Linked DNA regions of Homo sapiens. The gene in region 3 interacts genetically with the main gene of each other region. Each region holds a gene or a part of one and is shown on either strand. Other genes may lie near its edges.

Region 1 (6,967 bases), on a different chromosome or scaffold from region 3:
GGAGGGGCGAGTCTGGGGGGAGGGTGAGGCGCTTTTGCAAAAGGCACGAGGGTCCACCCCAGACGGCCTGTGGCCACTCCGGAACGACTCTCCCACAAACCCCGAAGCCCCAGCCCCAGCCCGGCGGGGAACCCCCCCAGTGAGAGACAAGCAGAGAGCGGAGGTCTGGCGTCTGTCTAATCAGTGTGCTCGGAGAAAGAGACGGAGGGAGAGGGCGGAGAGAGAGAGGCCGGCTAAAGAGAGAGGAAGCCGGGAGAGGCAGGGAGCAGGCGGCCGGCACTAGCGGAGCCTGGGCAGGGCCTGTAAGGGCCGGGGAAAGCCGGCGAGGCTCGGGCCCAGGCTGTTATCTGACTCCGGACCGGGAGAGTCGCTCTCGCAGAAACACAAAGAAACCCCGGCGTTGGCTCGCCCCAACCCGGAGCCCGCGCCCCGCGCCGAGCGCGCCATTGGCAAAGCACGGCTCGCGGCGCTCGGCGAATTTTATATCACAAAGACCCAACTCGCGCAGAGCGAAAGCAGCCGCCCAGGGCCCCTCGCCCACCCTTTCCTACTTCCTATCGCGCTCTCTTCGTTTCAAAAAGTGAAAGGAAAAAAGAAAGCAGAGGTATTTTTTTTTTTAGCAGGATGTTAATCCACGGAGGGTCACATGAGCGCTGCCCGGGCGGCAGCGTTAATACGGCGAAGTGCATAAAATTGCCATTTGTAATTTGAACCTCCTGTACAAAAGTACAATCTCAGGTTTTTTTTTTTTTTTTTTTGAGAGGGTGGGGGCTGGGGAAAGGGGTGAGGGGGAGGGACATGTTGAACATGCAGGAAAAACAAGGGCAGAGAGAGAGAAGTAAACTAGGCTTTAAAACAACAACAACAAACACCCCATCCCTTGCAGAAAGGCAGACTCCAGTGAACTCACAATCAATGCAAAGGAAATGGAAACAGCCCAAAGAGAGAGTAAAGAAGGAAATCAGTCGGCCAAAGCATGCGGATTTGGGGTCTGGGTTCCAATGCAGAACTCGCTTCTAGTATAAAACCCTTTTCCGCTGCAATACGAAGAGAAGAGCTTGGGGCTTCTTGTCCTTACCCAGAGCAGGCTAGCCAAACGTACCCAGGACCCCGGGACCCAGGACGAGGGAAGGAGAAATGAGAGGCCGATACCTTCCCGTCTCATGCCCACTTTGAGGCACTTTTTGAGGCGGCAGTACTGGCACTGGTTGCGATGGTGCTGGTCGATGGGACAGTTCCGGTTGGCGCGGCACGTGTAGCTCAGGTTCCTCCGCACGCTGCGCTTGAAGAAGCTCTTGCAGCCCTCGCACGTGAACTGGCCGTAGTGCTTGCCGCTCGACTTGTCTCCGCACACCACGCACTCGATGTGTTGCTGCTGCTGCTGCTTGTCGCTACCCGGGCCGCCAGGGCCGCCCTGGCCACCGGCCGCCGTCTGGGCTGGCGTGCTGGCTGGGCCCCCTTGGCCGGGCGTCTGTGGCGTGTGCGGGGCGCCGGGCGGCGGGCCGGGCACGGGCGGCGCCTGCGAGGCCTGGCTGCCCTGTGAGCCGGGCACCTCGTCCTGGGGGTCGCGCCACGTGCTGACTACCATTGCCATATCTATGGGGGCTGCGTCCGGACTTCCTGCTCCCCTGGCTGCGGGCGGCGGCGGGGCGGCGGCGGCTCCCCGGGTCTCGGGCTCCGGCGCGCCGCCTTTTGTGTGTGCGAGGGTGCAAGAGGGCGCGGGAGGGCGCCCCGGGTGGCTCGGGGGCTGGTTGGTTGAGGTTGGTTAGTTTTTCCTTTTTTGTTTTTGCTTTTGCAAAGTTTTGTCGATGGCTTGTCTGGCCCGGTGTGTTTGTTTTGTTTGTTTCTCTCGGCTCAGCTTTGTTGGTTTCGGGGGGCTTTCCGCCGGGAGGGGAGGGGAAGGGGACAGGAGAGCGAGTGGGAGCAGAACGTGGAGAAAGAGGGAGGGGAGGGAGAGCTGAAGTCGATTGTCTGGCTTCAAGACAGAAGTAGGAGGCAAAAAAAAAAATCTCTCCAAAGATCTCGCTCGCTCTCACTCTCTCCCTCCCTCTCTCGTTCACTCTCGCTCTTAGAGCTGGTGTGCAGCCGAGGAGTTGGCGGAGGAGGAGGAGGAGGAGGAGGAGGAAGAGGAGGTGGTGGTGAAGGAGGAGGTAGAGGAGGAGGAGAGGCGACTGTCCGGGGGCCAAGTCCAGGGCAGCCCACAGTCAGCCATTCAGGAAAGCCATCGAAATCAGGAGGACTAGGAGATCGGAGGCGCCGGGTGCGGGCGCGCCCAGGGAGCCAGGCAGGCCGGGGCGGAGGCCGGCGGCCCGCGGAGTGGCCGGAGCGCTGCCCGGGTCCGGGGGAATCAGCATGAAAGTGGTCCGCGTCGGGCGCTGCGCGGCGTCGTCCTGGCGCTGGGCCGCCGCCGCCGCCGCCTGCCCCGGGCGTCCGGCGCGCGCCTCGCTCTCTCCGGCCGCCGCCGCCCGCAGTCGCTGGGTGGAGGCCGCTCGCCGTTCCCTGCGGGCCGCCCGGGCCGCCGCTGCCGCCGGAGCCGCCGCCGAAGCCGCCGGGTCGGGCCCGGAGCCGCTGCGTCTAGCGCCGCCGCCGCCGCTGAAGTCGCTGCTGCCGCTGCTGCCGCCGCCGGAGCCGCTGCTGCTGCTGCTGCCGCCGCCGCCTCACACACATAGGGAAAGAGTCAACTCGCCGGCGGCGGGGGAGAAATGATAAAAGAGAGAGAGGAGGGCAGATCACCACCTAGAAGCACATCCTTCGTGCGCAGAGGGGGGAGAAAAAGACGGAGAGAAAGAATGAAAGAGGGGAAAAAAGGCAGTACGGCACCCGGAGAAAGGAGGCAACTCGGGGAGAGGAGGAGGAGAAGAAGAAAACACACACGCGCGCACGCACACACACACCGCGGAGAGAAAAGAACAGAGAATCAAAGTGATCAAATATGCTAAAAAGGGGGGCGCGGGAGGGAATGCGATTTATAGGCGCCGGGGCTGGCAGAAGTGGCTTCTCCGCGATCAGCTCACTGAGCTCTCTATATAGTGAACTTTGACACGACTGCTGCAACTTAGCGCACGTTGCCATGGCGACGGCGCGCCTTATAAGGCAGCAGCCGGGGTTGGCCTGGCCAGGCGCGCGCGCGCCGCCCCCTCGCCGTCATTGGCCGGACTGCGGCGGCCCCGCCATGGCGGCCGCGGGCGCAGCCCGGTCCTAGCGCGAGCGGCGTCGCCGGCGCGGCGCGGGGCACGCGGGGGACCGGGGGTTGGGGGGGCGGGGACGGGGTGGCCGCGCCGCCGCCGCCGCCGCCGCCGAGAGGGGGATGGGCCCGTGCTGGCCCTGCGAGCGCTGCCTCTGCTCTCCCCACATCCCGCACCCGAGGTTTCCGCCCCGGCGGGGAGACTAGCGCAGCGCGCACACACAACGTCTCTTAAAGGCTCCGCGAGAGGCTTTGGATGGAATCGGGGAGTTTGCCTCTCGCAACTTGGCGATGTCACGAATTCCGCCGCTCGCGCACCACCCGGGACTCCTGGCGCATCTTAGTACCCACAATGCCAAAGAAAAGTTCCCTGGTTTCTTTGCAGAGGGATAGGGAGTGAGGGTGGGAAGGTGCCACGAACTGAGCTTGTAGGCATTTTCCAAACGAAAGAGTTGGCCAGATCCGGGTGATGGCAAACCCTTCTCTTAATTAACTCTGATCACTTGTTCGGTTTGGTGACATATATATATGACATATATTCTTTTCAGAGGATAAAGGCCGTTCTGTTTCTGTTTATTCCTTGTAGGGTTAACATTTCACAGGTATGTGGCCTGACATTTTAATTGCCCAAATAAAGCATCTCGGATGCTGAGAAGCAGAAATAGACTTCATCTGATTGTCATGATGCAATTAGAATCAATTTTCCTCAACTTTACCCTCTCTCGCTGGTTTTAGCTAACTCTCCAGCCAACATCCTGCCACACACCCAGTCATGGTGAGAGGGGAAAGACCTCTGCCCACTGATGGACAGGAGGAGGCAGCCGCCCAGCCTCCCCTGTGCACACCCTCTGTACACACATGTAAGCGCACATGTATCAGATGCACATTTGTCAATGTACACAGACAAAGACTTCACCGACTATGCTTCTAGGTCATAGAACAGTTGAGTACGGACTTCATTGTTCCTCAAGTTCCTTTTAAGCATTCATATAGTCATTAAAACGCACCCAGAGATTCTGCCCCAAATGGGAAATAATACTAGTACAGGTCACAAGAACCAAACCCAAGCCATATTCTACCTCAAGAAGTCACTGCAAAAAGAACAACTTCATAGCCTATTGCCATTCTGCTCCATGTGCTAAAATAATTGAGACAGTTGTGTCTTTGAATTCCAGGGTGTCTGGTTTTAAACATCAAACATGTAGAATTGCTCTCAGAACACACTATATTCCAACGCAGTAAACTTGTTGTTTATGACCAGTTAGTGAATTATCATTATTCCACATTTATACAAGAAAATTGTGTCTCCTTTGTACACACTTTGCACCAAGAAAAAACCTCATGCCGGTAAACCAACCAGGTTTGTGAACAATTAAAATATTTTACACAAAAGACGCTGAGCTCCAGGAAAGAAATGAACACATATGAAGAGTAAATTGATGACCACAGAAAACATCCTTGGTAGCTGAAAAAAAAATTGACAGGGTAAAGATATTTTAAAAATAAACCATACATATAATTGACATGCATAGATCACATTTTACATTCAATTCTCTTTACACACATAGGCAGAATATGAGGTAAGGACTAAAGATCTGGGCAGATAGGGGCTGGTTTTTAGGAAAGGAAAAATCTTCTTTAAGCTTCATTCCCGAAACCTCAGCCCTCACTCTTTCTCCGATGAAATCACGTATTTCACTAAAGCTGCAGGTTCTCGGTTTATTTGAAAGTTGTTAAAAAAAAAAAAAAAAGCCCAGCAAACCTATAGTGGACACTGAACTATCATAAACCTGGTGTGTAATAAGATTGCCACAGAATGAAGCCAAGCTGAGAATTTCAGGTTAATTAGAGACACAATATAACTTTCTCCTAAAGAGGATAAGAAGGATGGAAAAGAAATCATTACACAGGAGAAGGTTTTTGGTAGTTGTTGTTGTTTTCCCTTCCAACCTCTATGATTCAGGAATTGCTAATGTTACAAATGTCAGCAGATTCGGGACAAGCTCAGCTGAGATGTGATGAGACTGGGGTTGAGATAGGAAATCTAATGGGCATTCCCATCTCAATAGAGGATGAAAATAATTGATTATAGGGAAATCTTCATCTCACCTCCTGAATGAGACTTCCATAGCAGATTACCTTTTACAAACATGGGAAGGAACAATATCGAGGAGGAAGAGCTTCCCCAGTCCACTTAGAGATTTTTGGAATTTGAAGTATGCGTGATGGCCTTAGATTAAAATGGAATAATTTCCCAACCATATCTTAACAAATTGGAGCCTGCTAGGCAAATGATCACAGGGCTGCCATAAAGTCAGGGGTGTTTCACTCTGTATTTTAGGACTCATTCAGTTATGAAATGCTGTTACAAGGGAGAAAAAAAATCACCGTATGAATTATACTTAATTTTAATGCATAGAAGAAGAGACAAGACTACAGACTGAGAAGAAAAAAGGGCAAAAATATTTTTAAATGTCTTCTCCAGAGATGCTCACTTGCTGTGCGTCTAAGGTTAAAAAGCTCTGAGAAGATAAAATCAATATATTATTGTTGTTTTTTAAAAATCCAACTCAGTCTTTTTTTGCAGATGTAAATTTATTATAATGAGAAGAATGGCAAGCTTTAATTTGCCTAGAGAAAGTTGGGACAACATTTGCCCTAATCTAAAAAAGAAAAGAAAGAAACTCAACACCCAGGAATATAATTTTCTTGCAGAAAGTGGCCTGATGGGCTGTATTTCTTTACAGATTGAATCACAATATGAATACAGACCCCAGCAAATGCCGAGTTTAACTCTGAACTCAGTAGAAACCAGTTCCGTCCTCCAGGATTCATTGAATTCCTCCTTTCCCTCAATCTAGTCCGTGTGTGTTTTTCTCTTCCACCACACTGGAGCTCCATGAATAGGGAAAGGGGCTTCCATTGTGTCCCTCTGAACTTCCAAGTCAATGCAATTTTTAACCACTGGCTTGTGGTACTTTGAAAATCACCAGGGGCTGTCAGAGTTAGGTCCTCTGAAAAATTTACAGTGCTAAATCAGAGCATATGCTGGGAGGGAAAAAATTGCTTAAGATTAGAGCAAGTACAGTATCTGTCTGCCCCCTAGTGTAAGAGTCCTCGCTGCCTAAAATTCAACTTTAAAAGAAAAGGAGCTCTTAAAGGGAAACGACTTTGGACTCACGTAGGCATAGGAGAACGAAACTTCTGTACATTTTAATCTGAATAATTCTTCAGGATTTAAAATTAATTGGCTCTGGCTTGGTTGGACCGTACTCGGATCTCGCCACCTCTGCGTTTCCCGAGTCACTGGCGAAGAGGTGATTTTTTTTTTTTTTTGAACTGGGTTTATGTGCGTCCCCCTCACCCCCTCCTCTCTTTTTCTTTCTCTCTGTCTCTGTCGTCTCTCTCGCTGGCTTTTTAAAAATGAGGAACCGCTCCTTGAATGTTCTGGACAGAGCACAGAATTGCTTCTTAAGTCAGCCCGGCGCGGTTGCAATAGACAGCAAAAAGGTAAACGTTTGCCTGAAATCCGCACGCCAGCTCCACCGCCCCGCCCGATGGTGAGTACCCTTCTCGTCGCGATTCTCCTCCTAGCTTAACCGAGCGCTCGCCTACCCGAACCGTGGCCGAGGGCGCCGGGCTAGGCTTTTCTCCCTCCCTGCCTGCCTGGCTGTCAGTTGCACAAGGTTGCAAAATGAAGCGCAGAGGCAAAGCGAACAGTAAATTCTGATACTTAGTGCGAGCCTAGCAGCTCCTTTGCTAGAAAACCGAGTCATCTGCTGC
Region 2 (7,079 bases), on a different chromosome or scaffold from region 3:
CATATTAGCATCCATGAGAAAAGGTGACATTTCTAAGTGTCACGGGCCACAGGAGGTCCCGGGTGGTAGAAGATGAGGATTGCTTGACCACAGTCTCCCATATGCTCGTGCTCCACTGGGCGACATTTATTTTGTGTACCTGTCTCGAGGCCTAAGTAGGTGTCAGAACCTTGCCTTGGAGTCATGCTGGGGACTGGGGAGATGCGCGTCATCTTCGGGTGGCTGTTCTCGGTGCCCTCGAGCTTCTCTCGGGCAGCGCATAGCTGCGCTGCCACCTCACGTTCCACATGCTGACCCTGCCTTGCCATGGTCCCTCTCGCAGCCCATGGAGTCCATGCATGAGAAGGGCATGTCGGACGACCCGCGCTACAACCAGATGAAAGGAATGGGGATGCGGTCAGGGGGCCATGCTGGGATGGGGCCCCCGCCCAGCCCCATGGACCAGCACTCCCAAGGTACAGAACTGCGTTCCTTCCTGCCTTGTGTTTGTCATACTCCAGAGTCCTCAGATCATTTTCCTCCCCTGGGTTCCCACAGGATGGATTCAGGGAGTACCTAGGATGATGTAGCCGGGTGGGTGGCCCGCCACAGAGAGCTGTCTGGCATGGCGTGGCTGGTGCTCTGTTCTGGCCACCTCGTCTCGGAGCAGCCCTGGAAGGGGAAATGCTGGTTGGGGGGCAGACCATGTTCAGCATGGGTGATAGAGGAGGGCTGTGCAGGGCAGCAGCCCCGTGCCACCCAGGAACTTACTGGAAATACAGATTCCTGGGGCCTGGGACTCTGCTTTAATGAGCCCAGCAGGTGCCTTTTCTGTACGAGGACAATTGAGAAGTGATATGGTGGGTGACTTTCCAAGGCCTTGCTGTCATCAGGGGTGGGAAGCTCAGGGGCTGCACTGGGAATGGAAGTGTTGGGGGTGGGCCTGGCGAGCCCGAGGATGTGGACCCCGCCTGTGGACAGGCAGGCGGAAGCCGGGAGAGAGCCGTGATTTCATGCACAGGTTCTCAGCATTAACCAGAAGCACCTTACTGAGACGTGGGCCAAACCAAATCCACCAGGTCGGCTGCTGGGCTGAGGTGCCTTCAGCATGTGCCCTCCAGGTGCCCCTGGTTGACTCAAGAGAAGGATGCCATTTGGCTGTGCCCTGTCTCAGAGTAGGAGCTGGTGTAGGGGGAAGAGGCTGTAAAAATCACAGACATATGCTGCCGAGTGACCAGTGGGCTGACCTTTCTCTGCAGGTTACCCCTCGCCCCTGGGTGGCTCTGAGCATGCCTCTAGTCCAGTTCCAGCCAGTGGCCCGTCTTCGGGGCCCCAGATGTCTTCCGGGCCAGGAGGTGCCCCGCTGGATGGTGCTGACCCCCAGGCCTTGGGGCAGCAGAACCGGGGCCCAACCCCATTTAACCAGAACCAGCTGCACCAGCTCAGAGCTCAGATCATGGCCTACAAGATGCTGGCCAGGGGGCAGCCCCTCCCCGACCACCTGCAGATGGCGGTGCAGGGCAAGCGGCCGATGCCCGGGATGCAGCAGCAGATGCCAACGCTACCTCCACCCTCGGTGTCCGCAACAGGACCCGGCCCTGGCCCTGGCCCTGGCCCCGGCCCGGGTCCCGGCCCGGCACCTCCAAATTACAGCAGGCCTCATGGTAAGACTGGCTGCCCTGGCCCTCAGGTGTCTCAGAGCGAATGGCTGGGGCGTGGGTGGCGGGGTGGACAGACCGTGCTCTGTTGCCGACTGGGTTCCCCGGTTTGGGATTGCACGGGCCCATACTGCACTTCTGGGTGCTCGGGTGGTGGGGGCAGCTAAATGCTGCTTCCCCAGCTCCCCGCTTCCCCTGGGGCCGCTGGTTAATAGGTGTATCTGCTGTGTCCCCTGGAGCCAGGGCTGCCCACGGGGCTGGGCGCAGGCATAAACCTGGGACGCACTGTTTTCTCTTTTGTTTCTCCCTACATGTAGGTATGGGAGGGCCCAACATGCCTCCCCCAGGACCCTCGGGCGTGCCCCCCGGGATGCCAGGCCAGCCTCCTGGAGGGCCTCCCAAGCCCTGGCCTGAAGGTGAGCTCCCTCTTCTATGGTGGTGCACCCGTGCCCTTACTCCCCATCTCAAGCTTGGGTCCTTGAGATGAGCTTTGTCAGGGAGAAAGGGCCGAGGGTGGTCAGGCTGAACTGCAGCCTGTACTTTTCTTGTGGTGGTCCCCGGGTCTCCCCTGTAGCCAGTCAGTTCCCAAAGGCTGTCGTTCATCCCTCCTCTGACAGCTTGTGGCCTTCACCCAGTCCCTGAGCCCTGTATATGTAATTGCTCAGTAAGTGCTGCAGGCTCCCATCTGTTGGGCTCAAAGAGGCAGTGGGACTCATTACCCATCCTCTTGGAGCCTGAGGTTTAGCGATGGGCATTGAGGGGCAAATTGCTTCCACTGGATTTAGTTGGCACTAGGAGGAGATGACAGGAAATGCTGCCATAGAGCCACAGACAGAACAAAAAGGCCTTGGGAGCCTGGGGCTGGCCCCAGTGGAGGGTGTGAAGGACGAGGGTGAGGCTGAGATCTGGAGGAGGTTGGAGCCCAAGGCAGGTGTGAAGGACACCCCTGGGTGAAAGGTGGGAGATGGGCGGGGTCTGCCTGTCCCCAGTGCCTCAAGCAGCTCAGCAGCTTTCCATTTCCAGCCCGGGATGGGCCCCAGAGCTCAACATGACGCCCTGGCCCCTTGCCTTCTCCCAGGACCCATGGCGAATGCTGCTGCCCCCACGAGCACCCCTCAGAAGCTGATTCCCCCGCAGCCAACGGGCCGCCCTTCCCCCGCGCCCCCTGCCGTCCCACCCGCCGCCTCGCCCGTGATGCCACCGCAGACCCAGTCCCCCGGGCAGCCGGCCCAGCCCGCGCCCATGGTGCCACTGCACCAGAAGCAGAGCCGCATCACCCCCATCCAGAAGCCGCGGGGCCTCGACCCTGTGGAGATCCTGCAGGAGCGCGAGTACAGGTGAGGGCGGGGCCCAGTTGCCAAGGTCACTGCCCTGTGTCCCCCATGTCCCCCTGGGGAAGCCACTCAACTTTCTCCCCCACTCTAGCAAACAGTGCCCTGTGCCCACCACTGCCACTTGGCCTACACCTCCTTCCTCACCTCCCTGCTCCCACCCTGGCTGCGGTCTGTTTCCCACACAGCAGTTTGAGTTCTCTCTCTTTTTTTTTTTTTGAGACGGAGTTTCACTCTTGTTGCCCACGCTGGAGTGCAATGGCACAATCTCGGTTCACTGCAACCTGCATCTCCTGGCTTCAAGCGATTCTTCTGCCTCAGCCTCCTGAGTAGCTGGGATTATAGGCATGCGCCACCACACCTGGCTAATTTTGTATTTATTTTAGTAGAGGCAGGGTTTCTCCATGTTGGTCAGGCTGGTCTCGAGCTCCTGACCTCAGATGCTCCCAAAGTGCTGGGATTACAGGCATGAGCCACCGCACCTGGCATGAATTCTCTTTTTATGATTGATATCAGATCTACTCCGTGGATTAAAACCTGCCTGTAGCTTCAATTATCTGCCCAATAAGCTTTGCCTTATGTCCACTCCTGCCCAGCATCCTTCCTCACCCATCCCAGTCTCTCTGTTCCTCTTTTCATTTATTTAACAAGTTAGACTTGTTCCTGCCCCAGGACCTTTGCACAGGCTGTGCATGGCTCCTTCTACTCATTCAGGCCTGATTGCTGGGGTTCCCTCCTCATGGAGGCCCTTCCTGTCACTTCCAGCCACTCTCTGGAATTGCAGTGGATATTTTATTTTTTTTAAATCTCCTTTATGGCCTGTGTTTTCTAATGAGACTGAGAGTTCCTTGCTTTGTTGTTCTTGTTTAGTGCTAAGGCCCTGCACTTAAAATGGTCCCTGGCATACAGTTGGTGCTCAATGAGTATGTGCAGAAAGACTGATTAAGAGAATTAGCCCACATAACCTTCGCATGTAACCTTCGTAACCTTCAGACCAAGCCTCTAGGGTCACTCCGAGGGGTTGCCTCAGTTTTGAGGTGAGAATGCTGAGGTGTGCAGTTGAAATAGATTCCCACCGCCCTGCGCCTCATCCATGCCAGAGCTGCATGAAAACCTTGGCCCGCCTGACGCCAGAACCTGGCTCACACCACTGAAAAGGCATGACCTGGGCGCGTCTATCAGGAATCTTGTTTGCTGTCCCCTGAGGCCCGGTCCTGAGGAGTGCCCCGGGCTATCTCCCTCTCTGCTGTGCCCTGCGGCCAGCATCCTCTTCTGAGGCATCTCTTGCCTCATGACTAGTGCCTGCCTCTCTCGAGGGATGGGTCCCCTGCAGCTCCAGCTGTAACTGGGTGCCCTGGCAACCCTCTCACCGCCTTTGCTCCTTGTCTCTGCTCCCAGGCTGCAGGCTCGCATCGCACACCGAATTCAGGAACTTGAAAACCTTCCCGGGTCCCTGGCCGGGGATTTGCGAACCAAAGCGACCATTGAGCTCAAGGCCCTCAGGCTGCTGAACTTCCAGAGGCAGGTGGGTGCTGGCATGGCCGCAGCTTTCCGAAAAGGGCCTTTGTCACCAACACTGCTGCTAAGGCTCCAAATACGGCTTGCCTGGCTAGTATTACACCTGCCTGGGCTGTGAAAAGCAGCCGTGGCCATCCATGGGCACTCAATCACTGCAGAGCCTTCCTCTTACGGCCTGCGCAGTGCTGGGGACGTGGACCTCACTACCCTAAAGCACTTGCCGCCTCAAAGCAGACTTGTATGGGCTTCTTTCTTCCTTTCCCTTTCCCTTTTTTTTTTTTTTTGGAAACAGTCTTGCTCTATCACCTAGGCTGGAGTGCAGTGGCATAAACTCTGCTCACTGCAACCAACGCCTCCTGGGATCAAGCAATTCTTCTGCTTCAGCCTCCCAAGTAGCTGGGATTACAAGCGTGTGCCACCATGCCTAATTTTTATATTTTTAGTAGAGACAGGGTTTCACCATATTGGCCAGGCTGGTCTCAAACTCTTGACCTCAAATGATCGGCCTGCCTTGGCCTCCCAAAGTGCTGGGATTACAGGCATGAGCCACCACGTGCTGTCCTGCATGGGTCTATTTCTGAGGGTACTGTGCTTAGACCCTGGAGTGCAGTGGAGAGATCACAGCTCACTGCAAACTTGACCTCCCAGGCTCATGTCCTCCTCCCGCTTCAGCCTCCTGAGTAGCTGGGACTATAGGCGTGCACCATTACACCTGGCTATATTTTTCTTTTTTTTGAAACAGAGTCTCACTCTGTCACCCAGGCTGGAGTGCAGTGGTGCCATCTCACCCCACTGTGGCCTCTGCCTCTGTGGTTCAAGTGATTTTCCTGTCTCAGCCACTGAGTAGCTGGGATTACAGGTGTGCACCACCATGCCGGGCTGATTTTTTTGAAGTGCAGTGGCACAATCTTGGCTCACTGCAACCTCTGCCTTCCAGGTTCAAGTGATTCTCCCACCTCAGCCTCCTGAGTAGCTGGGATTACAGGCATGTGCCCCACGCCTGGCTAATTTTTGTATTTTTAGTAGAGACAGTGTTTCACCATGTTGGCCAGGCTGGTCTTAAACTCCTGACCTCAGGTGATCCTCCTGCCTCAGCCTCCCAAAGTGCTGGGATTACAGGCATGAGCCACCACGCAGGCCTGGTTTTTGTATTTTTAATAGACACAGGGTTTCGCCATGTCGCCCAGGCTAGTCTCGAACTCCTGAGCTCAAGCCATCCACCTGTCTCAGCCTCCCAAAGTGCTGGGATTACAGGCATGAGCCACTGCTCCTGGCCGCCTAGTTAATTTTTCTTCTAGTTTTTGTAGAAGTGAGGTCTCTCCATGTTGCCCAGGTTGGTCTCAAACTCCTGGGCTTGAGCAATCCTCCCACCTTGGCCTCCCAAAGTGTTGGGATTACTGGCGTTAAGCCACCACACCCAGCCAAGAGTGTTATACTTCTGAATGACTCCTAAGACGTGTGTGTGGTAGAGGGGAGGCAAGCTGGAGGTCCGAGAGGACCCCCTGGATAGATGTCCAGAAGTGATCACCTTCTGTCCTGTGCTCGCCCTGCCCGGGGGCACCTGCTAGACGTCCCCTGCACACACGGACTGGGTGTGTAAGGCACTTACAATGCTCCTTTAGCGGTGAAGCATGTGACATCACCATACGTGTTTGTCATTGTGGATGCCACAGAGCTGTGCAGTGCGCGGGCTTGTCCTCTTCCCTCCTACAGCTGCGCCAGGAGGTGGTGGTGTGCATGCGGAGGGACACAGCGCTGGAGACAGCCCTCAATGCTAAGGCCTACAAGCGCAGCAAGCGCCAGTCCCTGCGCGAGGCCCGCATCACTGAGAAGCTGGAGAAGCAGCAGAAGATCGAGCAGGAGCGCAAGCGCCGGCAGAAGCACCAGGTACGCTCCGGTGGCCCCAAGGCCCTGCAGCCCGCCCACCTGGCTGCCTGGCTTGTCCAGCGGTTGCCACGGGGCTGTGTTTGCTTTGTTCCTAAACATGCTGCTTGTCTCTCTCTTTTGCTCATTGTAACAGTATTCTAGGTACTGAGAGTGTATTGGTGTAAAAACCCAATGGTAGGGAGAAGATAGTGATGAAATCCACGCGTAGCACGTCTGGAAGGTGATAGGGCACAAAGAAAAATCAAGCCAGGATAGAGAGGAAGGAACGGGCTGTTGTAGAACTGATGTTGGGGGAGTTCTTTCTTTTGGAGGTGACATCTGGGCAGACCCCCAAGGAAGGGAGGCACACAGATCTGTGGGAAAGAGCTTTCTGGGAAAAGGAGAAGGTGCAAGGGCCCTGGGGCTGGAATGTGCCTGTGTTTTCTCTGGAAAGCAAGGACCTGCATGAGCCAGAGTAGAGTGAGTGGCGGGGAGAGCTGGAGGAAGGGAGCGCAGGGAGGTGACGAGCAGGTGATGCAGGGCCTTGCGAGCTGCATGGAGGATTTGGGCTTTTGCTCTGAGTAAAGTGGGAGCCATAGAGGGTTCTGGGCAGTGCAGGGACTGATCTGACTCAGGGTTTCCCAAGATGAATCAGTAAGACGGAAATCTTCAAATCTAAAATCAAGTAAGGATTTGGGGATGATTGTGCTGATTTGGTCATTTATAG
Region 3 (7,079 bases):
CAGTATCTTAGTCTGCTATAACAGAACACTGTTTATAAAGAACAGAAATTGCTGAATGTGGTGGCTCACGCCTATAATCCCAGTACTTTGGTAGGCTGGGGCGGATGGTTCTCTTGAGCCCAGGAGTTTGAGACCAGCCTGGGCAACTTAGGGAGACTCTGTCTCTACAAAAAGTAAAAAAATTAGCTGGGCATGATGGCATGTGCCTGTAGAGAGGCTGAAGTGGGAGGATCACTTGATCCTGGGAGGTCGACTCTGCAGTGAGCCATGATCGCACCAGTGCACTCCAGCCTGGGGGACAGAGTGAGACCTTGTGTCAAAAAAAAAAAAAGAACATAAATGTATTTCTCATAGTTCTGGAGGCTGAGAAGTCCAAGGCTAGAAAGTCCAAGATCAGGGTGCCAGCATTTGGTGTCTGGTGAGGGTCTGGTCTCTACTTCCAATATGGTGCTTTGAATTCAGTGTTTTCATATGACAGAAGGTGGAAAGGCAAAAAAGGATAAACTCTGTTTTTTTATATGGCCATTAATGTATTAGTGAGGATGGTAGAGCCCTTGAGACCTAAACACCTCCCAAAAGGCTCCACTTCCAAACACTGTTGGCATTGGGGAATATGTTTCCAACACATGAATTTTGGGGGACACATTCAGACCATAACAATCAGCATATGGATAGTTATTTTATTTGTTTGTTTGTTTGTTTGTTTGTTGTAGAGATGTTGTCTTGCCATGTTGTCCAGGCTGGCCTTGAAGTCCTGGGCTCAGCCTCCCAAAGTGTTGGGATTATAGGCATGACCCACCATTCCTGGCTGCTAGCAATTTTAATTGTAGTAAATTTAGTCATAAAGGATGCAGTCACCCAATAAGTTATATAGAATTCCAGGGTGGAATTCTAAGGAAGTGGATTGAGGAAAAGTTTAGTGCCCCTCATGCTGTGTACTCCCCCGTGATAGTATTTGTCACTGTGTAGAGGAATTGCCCATTTACTTGGTCATATTTCTTGTAGAGAGGAGGCTCTTTAGGGAAAGGGGCCGTGCCTTGTCTACCTCTGTATCCCCAGCACCAAAAACAATGCCTAGCTCATGGTAGGTTCTCAATAAATATTTGTTGATTAAATGTATAATGATAGAGAGTGAGGGGCCGGAGAGGTAGGTGAACCAGAAAGTACTGGGTTGCAGAAGCTAAAGAAGGGAGGGATTGGGCAAGTGTTGGCGGCAACTGGGGCAGAAGCTAGATTGTGGTAGATTGCAGTACATGGATGGCTAACTGAAGAGGAGACATCAGGTTGAACCCTTTTTTTGGAGACAGGGCCTCACTCTGTCACTCAGGCTGGAGTGCAGTGGCATGATCCTGGCTCACTACCACCTCTGCCTCCCAGGCTCAAGCAGTCCTCCCACCTCAGCCTTCCAAGTAGCTGGAACCACAGGTGTGCACCCTTTTTGTATTTTTTGTTTAGAAGACAAACGGTTGTCTTTTGTTTAGAGACAGGATTTCGCCATGTTGCCCAGGCTGGTCTCAAACTCCTGAGCTCAAGTCATCTACCCGCCTCAGCCTCCCAAAGTGCTGGGTTTACAGGCGTGAGCCATCATGCCCAGCTGGTTGAACCCTTTTAAAGGGAAGCTTGTGTGAGGTAGGGAGAGAGGATTGTTGATAAGGGAGATGGAGATGTAGTGGCTAAAAGTTGAGCATATTGAAATAATTCTTATGGAAAATAGCCAGAAGAGAGGGAGAGGCTGAAGATACAGGAAAGGGACTAGTAGTGATGGAGCTTCCTGAGGAGACCAGGGGAGATGGAAACCGGAGCCCAGCTAGAGACACTAACCTTCAACAAATTCCTTTGTGATGCGAGGGTAAATGTCAAGGAAAAGTTCAAATGGAGGTAAGTTTGAAGAGGAGAAGATAAGGAGAAAGTTGAGGGAGTTCTCAAGATCAGGAAAGAGAATATTCCTTTTCCTGAGGGTGGGGTAGGGCAGTTGGTGGAGCAGGAATCTTGAAGAGAGGAGATTTAAATAGCTTTTGCAAAAGTGGGGGGCTAGGGAAAGAAATTTGGAAGGATTGCTGGCAGTGATAAGAATCATTTTGAGGCTGGAACCTGTGATTTTTGTAGTCATATCATTTTGCACAGTTTTATGATAACATTTTATGATAACATTGTCAGTTTAAAAGAAGAAAAAAATGGGCTGGGCATGGTGGTTCACGCCTGTAATCCCAGTAGTTTGGGAGGCCAAGGCGGAAGGATCACTTGAGACCAGGCGTTCAAGACCAGCCTGGGCAACAAAATGAGACCTCCCCCAGCTCTACAAAACAACACAAAAAAATAAGCTGGGTGTGGTGGCACTTGCCTGTAATCGCAGCTACTTGGGAGGTTGAGGTGGGAGACTGAGGCAGGTGGATGGTTTGAGCCCAGGTGGAGCCTGCAGTGACCCATAATGGCACCACTGCACTCAGCTTGAGTGACAAAGCAAGACCCTGCCTCAAAAAAAGAAAAAGAAAAAGTACAAAGACCTCAGTCTTTAGATAAGGGAATAGACTTCTTTTTTTGCGGGGGGGACGGAGTCTTGCTCTGTCGCCCAGGCTGGAGTGCAGTGGCGCCATCTCGGCTCACTGCAAGCTCTGCCTCCAGGGTTCATGCCATTCTCCTGCCTCAGCCTCCCGAGGAGCTGGGACTGGAGGCGCATGACACTACGCCTGGCTAATTTTTTTTTTTTTTTTTTTTTTTTTTTTTTGAGATGGAGTCTTGCTCTTTCACCCAGGCTGGAGCGCAGTGGCGCGATCTCGGCTCACTGCAACCTCCACCTCCCAGGTTCACGCCATTCTCCTGCCTCAGCCTCCCGAGTAACTGGTACTACAGGCGCCTACCACCACACCTGGCCAATTTTTTGTATTTTTAGTAGAGACGGGGTTTCACCGTGTTAGCCAGGATGGTCTCCATCTCCTGACCTTGTGATTCGCCCGCCTCGGCCTCCCAAAGTGGTGGGATTACAGGCGTGAGCCAGCGCGCCCGGCCTTTTTTTTTTTTTTTTGAGACCAAGTTTTGCTCTTGTTGCCCAGGCTGGAGCGCAGTGGCGCAATCTCAACTCACTGCAACCTCCGCCTCCCAGGTTTAAGCGATTCTCCTGCCTCAGCCTTCCTGAGTAGCTGGGATTACAGGCATATGCCACCACGCCCGGCTAATTTTGTATTTTTAGTAGAGACGGGGTTTCTCCATGTTGGTCAGGCTGGTCTTGAACTCTCGACCTCAGATGATCGCCTGCCTCGGCCTCCCAAAGTGTTGGGATTACAGGCGTCAGGCACCGCGCCCGGCCATTTTTTGTATTTTTAGTAGAGACGGGTTTCACCGTGTTAGCCAGGATGTTCTTGATCTCCTTACCTCATGATCCACCCGCCTCGGCCCAAAGTGCTGGGATTACAGGCGTGAGCCACTAGGCCCAGCCGGGAATAGACTTCTTACTTGAGAAACTGAGTTTTGCAGTGAGGTCATTACTTTGGGATTCAGATTTGGCTCTGCCATTGAGAAGCTTTGTAATATCAGGCAAGTCACCTTACATTTCAGATTTCTCTCCTATAAAATCAAAATGATAGGAGTTCCTATTATGAGAACAATGATGGGAAAGCTCTTTAAGAGTTTAAAGTATGGCTGGCGCCATGGCTCACGTCTGTAATCCCAGCACTTTGAGAGGCCGAGGTGGGCGGATCACTTGAGGTCAGGAGTTCAAGACAAGCCTGGGCAACATGGTGAAACCCTGACTCTACTAAAAATACAAAACTTAGCCAGGCGTGGTGGCACATGTCTGTAATCCCAGCTACTCAGGAGGCTGAGGCAGGAGAATTGTTTGAACCTGGGAGGCAGAGGTTGCAGTGAGCCTGAGATCGCACCACTGCACTCCAGCCTGGGTGACAGAGTGAGACTCTGTCTCCAAAAATAAAAATTAAAATTAAGTAGTACCTAAATAAAAAGGACCATTTCTTTTAAAGTCTCTCAGCAACCTGATTAAGATATAGAGATATATCTTTATTTTAATTACAGTAAATTTAATCATAAAGGATGCAGTCACCCAAGAAGTTATATAGAAGAGGATCCAGGGTGGAATTCTAAGGAAGTGGACAGTGTCCCTCATGCTGTGTGCTCCCCTGTCATAGCATTTGTCAATGTGTATAGGAATACACACAGCACGGGTTGGCAAACTAATTAAAAACTGTTAAGAAAAGGATGGTTGGCCTGCACTGTTGGAGGCTCACATCTGTAATCCCAGCACTTTAGAAGGCTGATCAGGAGTTTGAAACCAGCCTGGGCAACAAAGCAAGATGCCATCTCTACAAACAAACAAACAAAAACATCAAACAAAAAAAAACATAAAAAGAAAAGGATGCTGTCTCAGAGCCCCACCCTCACTACCCTCACCTCAGATACTCCCTTAACCTTCTGGATAAGATATCTTAGTCCCCCAGGTCTGAGCCTTGGCTGGATCTAGGCTTGATAGGCAAGGGAGTTGCTAGGGATCAAGGCTCATGCCTTTTTTTCACTGGGTGCCTAGAGCTCTGCCTCATCCTAATAAATCTCTAAGGAGAGATCTTTGGGTGTGTAGTTCACTTGATTTTGCAACATTGTTCAAGGAATTTTCTATCAGGTAGACTTATAGAGCCCTCTAGATTAAGTGCAAACTGAAGTAGGTACCTGAGAAGCCCAATGTAGGGCCTGGCACGGTGGCTCACACCTGTAATCCCAGCACTTTGGGAGGCCGAGGTGGACGGATCACGAGGTCAGGAGATCAAGACCATCCTGGTTAACACGGTGAAACCCCGTCTTTACTAAAAGTACAAAAAAAATTAGCCGGGCTTGATGGCAGGCATCTGTAGTCCCAGCTGCTTGGGAGGCTGAGGCAGGAGAATGGCGTGAACCCTGGAGGCGGAGCTTGCAGTGAGCCGAGATCGCACCACTGCACTCCAGCCTGGGCGACAGAGCGAGACTCTGTCTCAAAAAAAAAGAAAAAAGGAAAATCCAATGTAGCTTTTAGCATATTGGATTTGGAGTCCGAAGAGTGGACTCCAGATCAGTCATTAGCTGTGTGATCTTGAGCAGGCACTTAACTTCTCTGAGTCTCAATTCAATTCATTGAATCTTTATTGAGCCTCTGTGATATACAAGGCATATTAATCCTTGCCTTCAAGGGGTACCCAGTCTTGTGGATATAGTCATGTAAATAATTCAGATATAAAACAATCCTAGCACTTTGGGAGGCTGAGGTGGGCATATCACTTGAGGTGAGGAGTTCCAGACCAGCCAGGCCAACATAGTGAAACCCCACCTCTACTAAATATGAAAATTAGCTGGATTTGGTGGCACGCACCTGTAATCCCAGCAATTTAGGAGGCTGAGGCAGGAGAACTGCTTGAACCTGGGAGGCAGAGGTTGCACTGAGCCGCCGAGATAGTACCATTGCACTCCAGCCTAGGCGACAGAGTGAGACTCCGTCTCAAGAAATAAAAAAAAAAAGAAAAGAAAACTAATGAAGTGCTGTATACAAATTGCATGTAGAGGAAAAGACCATTTATTTTGATCAAGAAAGGGTTTGGAGCTTGAGGTGGGCTTTGTAGTATGAGCATCATCAAAGAAAGGAGGACATTTCAGGTCAAAGGAATAGTCTGCACAGAGGATACTGTGGTGTGAAGGTGAATGTCATGTTCAGGATACTGATCATAATCTGGTGTGTCTGGAGCACAGGTTGGCAAACTTTTTCTATATAGGGCCAGATAGTAAATATTTTAGGCTTTATTTTGCCATATGCTTGGGTGTCTGTGGCAACTAAACTGCTCAGCTCTGCCACTGTAGTGTGAAAACAGCCATAGAGGAACTGTAAACGGATGGGCATGGCTGTGTTCCAATAAAATTTTATTTACCAAAACAGGCAACTAGTTGTATTTGTCCCAAGGGCCATAGTTTGCCTACTCCAGTCTAGAGCAAAGAGAGAGAGAGAGTGAGTGTGTGTGTGTTGTGGGAAAGGGTGGTAGCAGGAGATGAAGCTGGAAAGGCAGGTTAAGAAAGTCCTTGGATGAAGCTGGAAAGGCAGATTAAGAAAGTCCTTGGCCGGGCGCGGTGGCTCATGCCTGTAATCCCAGCACTTTGGGAGGCCGAGGCGGGCAGATCACAAGGTCAGGAGATCAAGACCATCCTGGCTAACACAATGAAACCCCGTCTGTACTAAAAATACAAAAAATTAGCTGGGCATGGTGGCAGGCGCCTGTAGTCCCAGCTACTCGGGAGGCTGAGGCAGGAGAATGGCGTGAACCCTGGAGGCGGAGCTTGCAGTGAGCTGAGATCGCGCCACTGCACTCCAGCCTGGGCAACACAGCGAGACTCTGTCTCAAAAAAATAAATAAATAAAGTAAAAGAAAGTCCTTGAATGCTGGCCAGGCGCGGTGGCTCACACCTGTAATCCCGGCACTTTGGGAGGCCGAGGTGAGTGGATCAACTGAGGTTAGGAGTTTGAGACCAGCCTGACCAACAAGGTGAAACCCCTTCTCTACTAAAAATACAAAAATTAGCCAGGCATGGTAGCACATGCCTGTGATGCCAGCTACTTGAGAGGCTGAGGCAGGAGAATTGTTTGAACCCAGGAGGCGAAGGTTGCAGTGAGCTGAGATTGCACCACTGCACTCCAGCTTGGGCAACAGATCGAGACTTGTCTCAAAAAAAAGAAAGTCCTTGAATGCCAGTCTTCTGAAGTTATTATTATTAAATGTTGAGACCCAGCCTGGTCTTGAACTCCTGGGCTCAAGTGATTTTCCTGCCTCAGCCTCCAGAGTAACTGGGATTACAGGCTCATGCCACCATGCCTATCTCTATTAAAGTTATTCTTTACTCTTTATCCTGTAGGGGATGGGGAGCCATAAGGATTTTTTGAGCGAAGGAGTGATGTTATCAGAATTGTGGATTAGGAAAATAACTCTGGTGACAGTGTGGCAGGTAGTGTGAATTGAAGGTAGAGGGACCAATTAGAAGGCTAGTGTTATAGATTAAGCATGTGATAAGTTTTAGTTTTCTTATCTGTAAGGTGAGAATAATAATACCCCCTGTCCTAC

The links. A genetic interaction does not mean that the proteins touch.
Region 1: of HDAC1 (region 3) and NR2F2, changing one enhances a phenotype caused by changing the other (phenotypic enhancement), as found in Homo sapiens cells (one study listed by BioGRID).
Region 2: of HDAC1 (region 3) and SMARCA4, changing one suppresses a phenotype caused by changing the other (phenotypic suppression), as found in Homo sapiens cells (one study listed by BioGRID).

Annotation. Positions count from the first base shown.
Region 1 is NC_000015.10:96,326,733-96,333,699, reverse strand, and holds the start of NR2F2 (COUP transcription factor 2), read right to left. Parts: upstream 3,001-6,967; 5' UTR 1,595-3,000; coding exon 1,153-1,594; intron 1,136-1,152; exon of another isoform or gene 1,079-1,135; intron 440-1,078; exon of another isoform or gene 393-439; intron 1-392. UniProt on the Homo sapiens protein: Ligand-activated transcription factor. Activated by high concentrations of 9-cis-retinoic acid and all-trans-retinoic acid, but not by dexamethasone, cortisol or progesterone (in vitro). Regulation of the apolipoprotein A-I gene transcription.
Region 2 is NC_000019.10:10,984,951-10,992,029, forward strand, and holds part of SMARCA4 (SWI/SNF-related matrix-associated actin-dependent regulator of chromatin subfamily A member 4), read left to right. Parts: intron 1-322; coding exon 323-455; intron 456-1,238; coding exon 1,239-1,643; intron 1,644-1,954; coding exon 1,955-2,053; intron 2,054-2,715; coding exon 2,716-2,974; intron 2,975-4,366; coding exon 4,367-4,493; intron 4,494-6,199; coding exon 6,200-6,373; intron 6,374-7,079. UniProt on the Homo sapiens protein: ATPase involved in transcriptional activation and repression of select genes by chromatin remodeling (alteration of DNA-nucleosome topology).
Region 3 is NC_000001.11:32,295,083-32,302,161, forward strand, and holds part of HDAC1 (histone deacetylase 1), read left to right. Parts: intron 1-7,079. UniProt on the Homo sapiens protein: Histone deacetylase that catalyzes the deacetylation of lysine residues on the N-terminal part of the core histones (H2A, H2B, H3 and H4).